2 linked regions of the Homo sapiens genome follow. The protein of the gene in region 2 purifies or fractionates together with the protein of the main gene of each other region. This does not show direct contact. Each region holds a gene or a part of one and is shown on either strand. Other genes may lie near its edges. The genes, in order: HDLBP and ADAR.

Region 1 (7,296 bases), on a different chromosome or scaffold from region 2:
ATGGTACCCAGGCATCTGGGCACCCAGGGTGTGGCCAAGGCCAAGACGCTGCCACACAGTCTCTGTGCCCTTCTAGCACAGCACACAGCCATGGAGAACAAGACGTGCAGGTGACCTGGGGAGGATAAAGGAAATGTGGCCCCAGGGAGTCCAATCCGGTTCCAGTGCAACGTGGGATTTGTCGACTTCCATTCTCTAAGGCCGCACACCACAACACGCTACTCCTTAGAGGGGGCCAAGAGACGCAAGGCCAGTGCCTTTCTAGAGGGCCCAGCCATGGCACTTACCATGCGAGATGCAAGCTCCAGCAGCTCTCGCTTGGCCTGCTGCACGCCCTGTGGGTCCCCCTCGATGCGGATCAAATTGCTCTTCTCACTGTCAGGAGGGATGCGCACGGACACCTTGTACTGGTCTTTGATTCTGTTTACTTAGGAACACAAAAGGAAACACATTTAGGACACAGACCAACAACATTCTGCCAATGACATAACTGGGCAGGACAGCGCTAAAGCGCTAAATAACCTTATCTGTGATTCCCATCACCAAAAACGATGCTTAGCTTCCCAAACAAAAATCTCCATTGTCTAGAATGGGGGCCAGTTATGATCTTCACCTGGATCACAAGGGTTCTGGAGGACAGGCTCTCAGCCTGGACCAGAAGCTGGAAATGCCCCGAGACCTTCAAATAACTGACGGTTGGGGCCACTCAGTCTGGGATTTAGCTCGTCTGGGGTATTGGCCAGGGCTTCAGAATAGTTGAAGGATTCCAGGTGTTTCTAATGTGCAGTAAGTTTGGGAACTACTATTCTCAAGTTAAAAAAACCACACACATTAACTCCACACAAAAGCACTCACTGACGCCTAAGAGCCTTGTGGGGCCCATGCTGCTGCCCAGAGACCCCATCTACTGTTGGCTCAGATTCACACTGAGCACTTCACTGTGTCTGCAAGACAAGTGCTGTTGCAAACCCTCCTGCTGTCAACCTCTCTGGATAGAACCCAGTACCCCCAAGTTAAGAGTTCCAGGCCCCCCAAACTCTGGAGAAGCCGTATCATCAGGAAACAAGGCAGGAATCTTGCCCACTGTGCAGTAAAGGGAAGCCCAGCTTGCTGGAAGGACCACGAGGAGGGCTTTTTGTGCGTCCATCCCAAACACATGCACACGCAGAGGCAGCAACGAGGCGATGCACTGAGGGGGGAACATGGACATGCAGCTGTGCCAGGTGAAGCAACACAAGACAAGAGAAGCAGAGGACATGGGAGCTGGGCAGCAGGTTTTTTTAGATTACGAAAGAAGACAAGAGTTAGGAACTGCATGAGAAGAAAACAGAACAGACATGACTGACTAAGCTACATTCTGCAATTTCTCGGGGGCAGAAACCAGAAATTAATGTTAGATTTACACTACTGTACTTCCATATATATGTGTTTTGAGACAGGGTCTTGCTCTGTCACCCAGGCTAAAATGCAGTGGCACGATACAATCACAGCTCACTGCAGCCTTGACTTCCTGGGCTCAAGTGATATTCCTGCCTCAGCCTCCAGAGCAGCGGGGACCACAGGCCTGGCTAAATTTTTCTTTTTTGTAGAGACAGGGGTCTCACTATGTTGCCCAGGCTCATCTCGAACTCCTGGGCTCAAGTGATCCTCCTGCCTTGGTCTCCCAAAATGCTGGGATTACAGGCAAGAGCCACCGTGTCAGGCCTAAACAAACGCTACAGTTAACCAAAACCAAAACAAAACCGTAAAAGCAAGTTTATGGTGTATGTGTGGTTCAAGTAGTGCGCAAAAAGGTCACTTTGTGCCTACAGACTCTCGTCGCTGTCACGTAAAATGCCCACAAAACATAAGACTGACACCAGAGAGCTCACCATTGCACAGGCCACAGCACAGCTGCCAAGGCTATGTTTACTCATAACAAAAACGGATACACGGACGTCAGTCATGTTATGCAGGTCGGTGTCCCACTACCTGGGAAAGGCTCCTTCATCCACTGAACTATCCAGGAATGGAGGACGTGCTTGCCTTCTCACCTTCCACCCAAAGGTAACACACGCGACGTGTGCACTTGTTTTCAGAACACGCGAGTGTGTGAGTATAGCCATACAGTTAAACAAAGAGGTGTAAAAAAACATTCTTGGTTGGGCACAGTGGCTCATGCCTGTAATCCCAGCACTTTGGGAGGCCGAGGTGGGCAGATCAACTAAGGTCAGCAGTTTGACACCAGCCTAGACAACATGGTGAAATTCCATCTCTACTAAAAATACAAAAAAATTAGCTGGGTGTGGTGGTGCACGCCTGTAATCCCAGCTACTTGGGAGGCTGAGGCAGGAGAATCGCTTGAACCTGGGAGGTGGACGTTGCAGTGAACTGAGATCACGCCACTGCACTCCAGCCTGGTGACAGAGCGAGACTCCGTCCCAAAAAACAAACAAACAACACAAAACATCCTTGGACCTGCAGCAGAATGCCCACGACACACTTCTAACAGCATCCTGTAACTGTGCTACACCTGCAACCTGGCACAGGTGAGGCACACAGCGACCTTGGCCCACATGACATACTTCCAACAGTGTCCTGTAACTGTGCTACACCTACAACCTGGCACAGGTGAGGCATATAGCGACCTTGGCTGACATATCACTGCCTCTTCAACAGAATCCCCCTGCTGGGTGTGGTGGCTCACACTTTTAATCCCAGCACCTTGGGAGGCCAAGGTGGGCAGATCACCTGAGCCCAGGAATTTGAGACAAGCCTGGCCAACATGGTGAAACCCCGTCTCTTCTAAAAATACAAAAATTAATTGGCTGTGGTGGCATGCACCTGTAGTCCCAGCTACTCAGGAGGCTGAAGCTGGAGAATTGCTTGAGCCCGGTAGGCAGAGGTTGTAGTGAGCTGAGATCACGCCACTGCACTCCAGCCTGGGTGACAGAGTGAGACCCTGTCTCAAAAAAGTATCCCTCCCCATGTTGTTTTACTTGGGCACAAATCTAGAATGTTTTTACTCTTCAGTGAGTTCCAGATCAGCAGTTTCCACGTTCAGAAGGCATGAGTACTACCAACACTGATTGGCTAACCTAGCAGGTCTGACGGAAATATAGAGAATGCTGCCCTTGGGCATGCCTTCAACATGGCCTCTGTGGGTTATTTGGGGAGGGCTTAGATGGATTTCCAAAAGTGACAATTCACCCACTGGCCAAGCAGCTCTAATCCAACCACTGCACCAAAGGGAAAAGGAAAAGTGGCCTCTTCCAGCAGGCAGGAGGATGTAAAGTCTGTAACTCCCATTACAGGCAGCAATGGGCCTGGACTGTCTGCACGGACGTCACAGTTCTCACAGCTGACACCCCCCACAAGGGTCTCAGGGCACACTGGCCCCACCGCAACAGACAGCCTCACTCACTGTTGGCACCGCTCTTCCCAATGAGGTGCCTGTGGAACTTGTGGTCGATGTTGATCTCCACATAGTCCATCCGGTTAATCTGCAGGAGGAGCACAGAGGTCCATGGATGCGCCTGGTTACTTGGCCAATGAGCTGAACCAAAACCCAGCAGTCTCCACGGTTGCCTTTTCTGACCACTCAGCTGTCAGGAATTGTTGGAGACTGCCCCTGCATCTCCCCTGAAAGATGCCTTCTTCAAGATGAAGTTTCCTCCACCCACGATTATTCCAGGACTTCGACCAGCTTCTGGTTGTTTCAGAACCTATTACTCACCCAGCTAGGATGCCCTGGGTGTCTGTGCCCGGACATGTGGGATGTCATCGAGAGATGACCGCCCATGCCCAACTCAGAGCCTCCCTTGTCACCAGCACACACAACATTCCAAGGGGTACCTTACCAAATCTTTGACCATGCCTTCTATCTGTTCCTGGGCCACATTGACATCCTCTGTAGGGCCCTCCAGGGTGATCTTGTCTTCGCCCTCTGTGAACTCGATGTGAACCTACCACACCAAAACCAAAGAGATAGCTAAAACAGAATGGCACAGCTGCAGCCCCTGAGCTCCCAGTGGGAGCTCTCTTCGGAGCGGCTTCTGATCCCAAACTGCTTCACATAGATGTGAGGGAGGGAGGGACATATCCACAGCCATCAAACAAAGTTGAAAGGGAGGGTTAGGGAGCCATAGTCAGGAAACTAAATACTGTGGCCGAATAATCCTGCCTCTCACTAAGGACACCGTTTGCCCCACAGAAGCCACTAACATAAAGCATGCGACATGCGACATGCTCCTCCACCATCTGAACTTTTACAAGGCCTGGTCCTCTTGAGTTGCATAAAGAATGAGACAGAGCACGGATGGAATTTTAAAACTCGTATAGCTGTACCAAGGTGGTAAAGTAACTTGCTTGACATAGACAAGGCTGCCAGAGTTCCTGGTTTATTATCCTCCAGGTAAGGAGTTAAGGAAGGCAGACTGGTCCTTATATGAAGCTATACAAAGTAAAAGGGGCTGGGCACAGTGACTCACACCCATAACCTCAATATTTTGGGAGGCTGAGGTAGGAGGACTACTTGATCCCACGAGTTCGAGATCAACCTGGGCAACTAGTAAGACTCTGCCTCCACGAAAACTAGCCTGGGGCGCCTGTAGTGCCAGCTACTTGGGAAGCTGAGACGAGCGGATCACTTGACCCATGAGTTCAAGGCTGCAGTGAGCTATGACTGCGCTACTGCACCCCAGCCTGGGTGACAGAGTGAGGCTTTGTCACTAAAAAAAAGGAATAAAATAAAAAAAATTTAATTTTTAAAAAGGACTGTAACATTAATTGGAAACAAAGTTTAAATAAAACAGGAATTAAATATGATGGTTGGATTCTCTGGTATTTCTTTTTTGTTCATGTTTCCTGGGGGCTACAATCTCCTTTGGTAAACTGAGAACGCTTTAAATTCACACTTAATACAATTTGTATACAAGTTCTGCTCTTCAAAGTATTTTTTTTTTTTTTTTGAGACAGAGTCTCGCTCTGTCGCCAAGGCTGGAATGCAGTGGTGCCATCTCGGCTCACTGCAAGCTCCACCTCCCGGGTTCACGCCATTCTCCTGCCTCAGCCTCCCAAGCAGCTGGGACCACAGGTGCCCGCCACCAAGCCCGGCTAATTTTTTGTATTTTTAGTAGAGTCGGGGTTTCACCATGTTAGCCAGGATGGTCTCGATCTCCTGACCTCATGAGCCACCGCACCCGGCCCGCCAAAGTATCATGAAGTTATTTCACCATAATTACTAAATGACATGTTTCTTAAGATACTTATGAAACCTAAGAACATACAATCCTCTCTGGTTAAAGGCCAGAAGGATGGTACAGACATCTACAGACATTTATTCTGCTGTTCTTTAAGCTAACACGGAAGTTGACCATGTCAAACAGGCCAGTTAATTCAGAAAAATACACCAGTTTTCAAGGGCATCCACAGTACAAAGGTCAACAAAGCAATATCAGAAACAGAAAGACAGAAAACAAGACAAATTCAATACAACAGGTGAAAAACGTGTCCTTACCTTTGGCATCTGCTGAGTGATTTTGGCCAGGTTCTGCCCTTTCTTGCCAATGATGAAACGGTGAAGCCAGGAAGGGGCGGCGACAGAGGAGACGGTGAAGCTATTGGCCTAAGAAAATGGGAGAACAGCCATGGGTTTGCAGAGCTCAAGGTCGTGTCACAGTGAAAGCCAGGCTGCTCACCTGGGGCTCAGAGGCACGCTCTCCCCAAACCTGGGCACCTGCACTGTGTCCAGGCCCCAGGATTTACAAATCGAGAGCTCATCCATGAAGGCCCCGCGGACTCCACTCAAAGGAGACACACTTCATGCTCGGAGGCAGTTACCTTGGCATAGACTTCAGTCAACGCCTGACCTAACTTTTCAGGTTCGCCTCGAAGTATTACAGTCTCAGAGATGCTGTCTGAGGGTGGGATCTCAACGGAAACTCCAGTTCTCTCAAGGATCTCCTGCAATGAATTGCCCTTGGGCCCAATGACATACTTGTGTTGGGATTTCTTCACTTCCACTGCAATGGTTGTAGTCTTCTTTTTCTAAATAAGAGCACCATAAGGGGCAGTCAAAGGGAAAGGTGTGGGAAGCGGGCAGGTGGGCATGGCCACTGCTGCAGAAAGCAAGCCAAAGCGGCCCAGACTATAGATGCTGATCCCAAGAAGTGAACAACAAGTGATCAGGACTAGCCAATCCCCAGAAACTTCACTGTTCAAGGACTGGATTTTTCCCCTCAGTCTAGTCACCCGCCGGCTGATAACTTCGTCCTTGAACACTGCAAAACACCCAATCCTTTCCCTCAATTAAGGAACACGTTTCAGACCTCAAAGTTCACTAAGCTGAGCTAACAGCTTAATCTAAGACGTGAACAAGTCCGGGATGTGCATCTGACCCGGGGCAGCCCAGCTGGCAGCCTGTCAGCACAGTCAGAGGCCCAGGACGGCAAGGACAACTGCCAGGCAGATGCTCAACAGCAAGGGGGGGCGGGCACCGATCTCACCCGGGTCACTCAAGTGTAGAGACAATAAGCATCTTCATCAAGGACAAAAAGATAAGGGGCAGAACCAGGCCTTAACTGAATCTCCAGACCCAAATCCTCATTTCTATTCCTGCCCATGGGGATTTGCCTCCTCTAAATCGTGTACCTTCTCCTCATAAATCTTCTTGATGCGAGCCACAGCCTGAGCCAACTGTTCCTTCTCTCCAGTGAAGACAATCTCTGTCCGGTTCACGCTGGGTGGGGGGATGTTGATGCGCGTGCCTGTCTCCTGCATGATCTCGCCAACCAGTCTATTATACGGCCCAGCGATGAAGGGGTGGAATGCCTTTTCTACTTCTAGCCTCTCCACAGCACGTTTGTCCTGGAAAGGAAGGGATGATCTGATGAGAACAGGCCTTTGAAAACAAACTGGGGACAGACAGGGCTTTTTAGAGTTGGAGTCAAGCCCTCCACCCCCACCACATTATGCCTTGAAGTCCACACTGGACACGGCAACCCATGAGGGAGTGAGGTCTGCACAAGCAGGTAGGCAGGGGCACGAGGCACTCACACAGGCCTCACCTGCTCGGCAGAGATGAGTAAGACTTCATGGCGAGCTTTCTCGATGCCCTCTTTGGTGCCAGTGATCTTGATCTGATTGCTGGGGTCATCTGGGCGTGGGATCTGGATTTTGGTTGCAGTTTTTAGCTCCAAGTCTTGCAGTTTCTCTCCATTTTTGCCAATAACAAAGCGATGGTGTTCTTTGGGAATGGCAACAGTTGCTGAGGCCTATAGCAAGAAGAGAATAAAAGAAAACAAGAATATTTGTAGG
Region 2 (2,926 bases):
CTTGCGTCTCAAGTCCCGTGGGACAAGATATTTAATAGTGGGCTCTGGCTGGGAGCAGTGGCTCACGCCTGTAATCCCAGCACTTTGGGAGGCTGAGGTGGACCTCACGAGGTCAGGAGATTGAGACCATCCTGGCTAACACGGTGAAACCCCATCTCTACTAAAAATACAAAAAAATTAGCCAGGCGTGGTGACAGGCGCCTGTAGTCCCAGCTACTCGGGAGGCTGAGGCAGGAGAATGGCGTGAACCCGGGAGGCGGAGCTTGCAGTGAGCCGAGATCGCGCCACTGCACTCCAGCTTGAGAGACAGAGTGATACTCCATCTCTAAATCAATCAATCAATCAATCAATCAATCAATCAATCGTGGGCTCTGCTGGGGAAGGGCCCTGCTGGGTACGTAATCAAAAGGTGCCTGATGAACCCCACCCCACCCAGACGCAAATTTACCCACAAAGGGAGGTTCTTTGAAATGGCTCCTTTCCAAAGGCTGAGGGACAGCCCTGTCCCCCACAGGTTCATGTCAGATGCCACTGGTGCTGTTATCAGAAACCCCAGGGCCACAGGTCCCTTTGTTCCCATTTTCACCTCCCCCAAGAAACCAGGACTTAAAACTTTCTAAGAATTCAGATTCTTGTTTTTTTTTTATTTATGAGGAATGTATATTGTTAAGTCACTGTTATCAAGGGACACATAAAAGCAGAATCATAAAACTGGACTGCAGCCATCATCACAGTACCCGAGTCTATGCTTGGGGGTCTTCCTCACTCTGCTCTTGGAGTCACAACCAAGACTCCAAAAAACCAACGAAGTCCCTTCAATGTGAGTAAAGGAAACAGCTTCAAGCACTGACAATTTTTACAAGTGATTATTCAAGGAATGCACAGTAGCCACAGTTCAGACAAATCAACTACAAAAATCATTAAAAAGAAGAGTAGGGAGGGTCACTGCTTATTAAAAACAAAAGACTGGACAAAGAAAGTGAAGATAACAGTGGGCAGAAGCTCTGCCTCCTCTGTCCTGTGTGACTCAGAGGGGCATGGGGGCGCAGGGATGTGCGATCTGACACGGCTCGTTTCCAGCAGATGCGTGGAATTCAGGGATGCCTCGCTCTCTTCCTACAACAGAAACTGAATACTACAGGCTTGCTAGATAAGATCTTGGGGGTGAGTGGGGGTTCTGATCTTGTGAGAGCCTGTGTTCCCAGTTAAAGAAGAGGCAGCTGGCCAGAGCTCTGCTGGAGAACCTAATGCCCAAGATGGACCAGAGAGGCCAAACAACCTGAGGACTCAGCAGGTGACAACCCTGTAGCCTGAAGAGGAGAGGGGCTGCGCTGCCTTCTGATGCTGAGAACCACAGACCTCTCTGCCCTGGATGTGGGTGCCAAGACTGATTTACTGTGCCCCCAGCAGACCCAGAGCCAGGGAGCAGGCCTCTTCCACTCCAGGAGACAGGCGCCACTTCCCTACCAGTTCCTTGGGATGCTTTGGTGTTCTGCAAAGGCATCCTTAGTCTATTTTTAGAACTTGCATTTTCTTACTTTGGTCAATTTTTGGTCAAAAGTACAGAGAGCATAGAATAAAAGCAAAGATGTGAATGTCTCTACCAGACAGAGGATGACCTAGTCAGCAGTTTGGAGGGAAATCATCTGAGGGTGCTGGCTCAGCACGTTCCCAGATGAAGGTCTGTCATCTAAAGGAGAGAGGCAGGCTCAGCTCCTGAAGGTCGCAGAGCCTCAGTAGTCCTCCTGAGTGTGTCTAGCTGACTGTTATCGAGGGACACGTAAAAGCAGCATCACAAAACTGGACTGCAGCCATCACCACGGCACCAAGTCTATGCTTGGGCTCTTCCCTGCTCTGCTCTTGGAGTCATGACCAACACTCTAAAAGCCAACAAAGTCCCTTCAACATGAGTAAAGGAAACAGTTTCAAGCACTGACAGTTTTTACGAGTGACTATTCAAAGAATGCACAGGAGCCAGAGAGCCAGACTCCACAGAGAGGCCAAAGGCTCTGAACACACGAGTCAATGTTCATGGAGGTATAGACAAAGGATTCTACCTCACAGAGTTTGAAGACAACCTGCCCTTTCACCCACAACTACTGCTTTCTATGTCAACCCTATAAAGATCAGGTCTGCGCCCTGCCCACGAGCCTACTTCTGAAGCCATCTGGAAAAATGAAAGCACTTGGATAAATGGAAAAGTATGCCTGAATTTTAAATCTGCTCAATTACAGGTTATCTGTAGCAGTTAAGAATCAACATCTATGGCATTCTTTAAAACACTCCTAATTTACATGTGACTTAGTCAACTTCCCTTGGTGTCACTGTCATGAGAGATATTACACCGGGTGGAACAGTGACGTTAAGCCAACAGGATTTTTTGCCCTTATTCTTGCTAAGTCATGATTATCTGAGCAGAGATGATTTTATACCCTCTAGGATTTGTCCCGTTGGCTAGGGTGTACGCCCAGCATTGGCGGGGAAAATATTCCTAGGAATGCTTTAGGAGAAGAGGCAGCTGGAAGCTTGGCAATATTCCAAGGCATGCCCGTGCTCCCTGGGAAGTGGTCTGTGTCATCCTGCCGGGTGAAACCTCTGCTATTGCTTGAGCAGCTCCCTTAACCCAGTCTGGCTGGTTCTAGACTTCCCAGCTGCCGGAGAAAGTGATACACTTCCAGGGAAGCAGCTTTCCTTGCCTTGCCCGCCCTGCAGCTGGCTAAAGTGCAGGATGGGAGGATGGCTGGGCATTATCTGCAGGCTCCAATCACACTTCCGTGGCACTGGGAACTGCAGTTTTCAACTCCTACCCTTACAAATGTTTCACCAAATCCTTTATGTTCACCTCTTTGCCCTCTGAGGGGGAAAAGGAGACATTCAGATCACAAGGAAAGAATCTCAGAAGGGAAAGAGGGGAAGTAGAGGGGTC

Evidence for each region.
Region 1: the proteins of ADAR (region 2) and HDLBP purify together in Homo sapiens (affinity purification with western blotting; 2 studies listed by BioGRID, with this or other methods). This does not show direct contact.

What each region holds. Positions count from the first base shown.
Region 1 is NC_000002.12:241,249,554-241,256,849, forward strand, and holds part of HDLBP (vigilin), read right to left. Parts: intron 7,254-7,296; coding exon 7,047-7,253; intron 6,847-7,046; coding exon 6,631-6,846; intron 6,028-6,630; coding exon 5,821-6,027; intron 5,606-5,820; coding exon 5,498-5,605; intron 3,945-5,497; coding exon 3,840-3,944; intron 3,483-3,839; coding exon 3,404-3,482; intron 428-3,403; coding exon 288-427; intron 1-287. UniProt on the Homo sapiens protein: Appears to play a role in cell sterol metabolism. It may function to protect cells from over-accumulation of cholesterol.
Region 2 is NC_000001.11:154,581,444-154,584,369, forward strand, and holds the end of ADAR (double-stranded RNA-specific adenosine deaminase), read right to left. Parts: 3' UTR 614-2,926; downstream 1-613. UniProt on the Homo sapiens protein: Catalyzes the hydrolytic deamination of adenosine to inosine in double-stranded RNA (dsRNA) referred to as A-to-I RNA editing.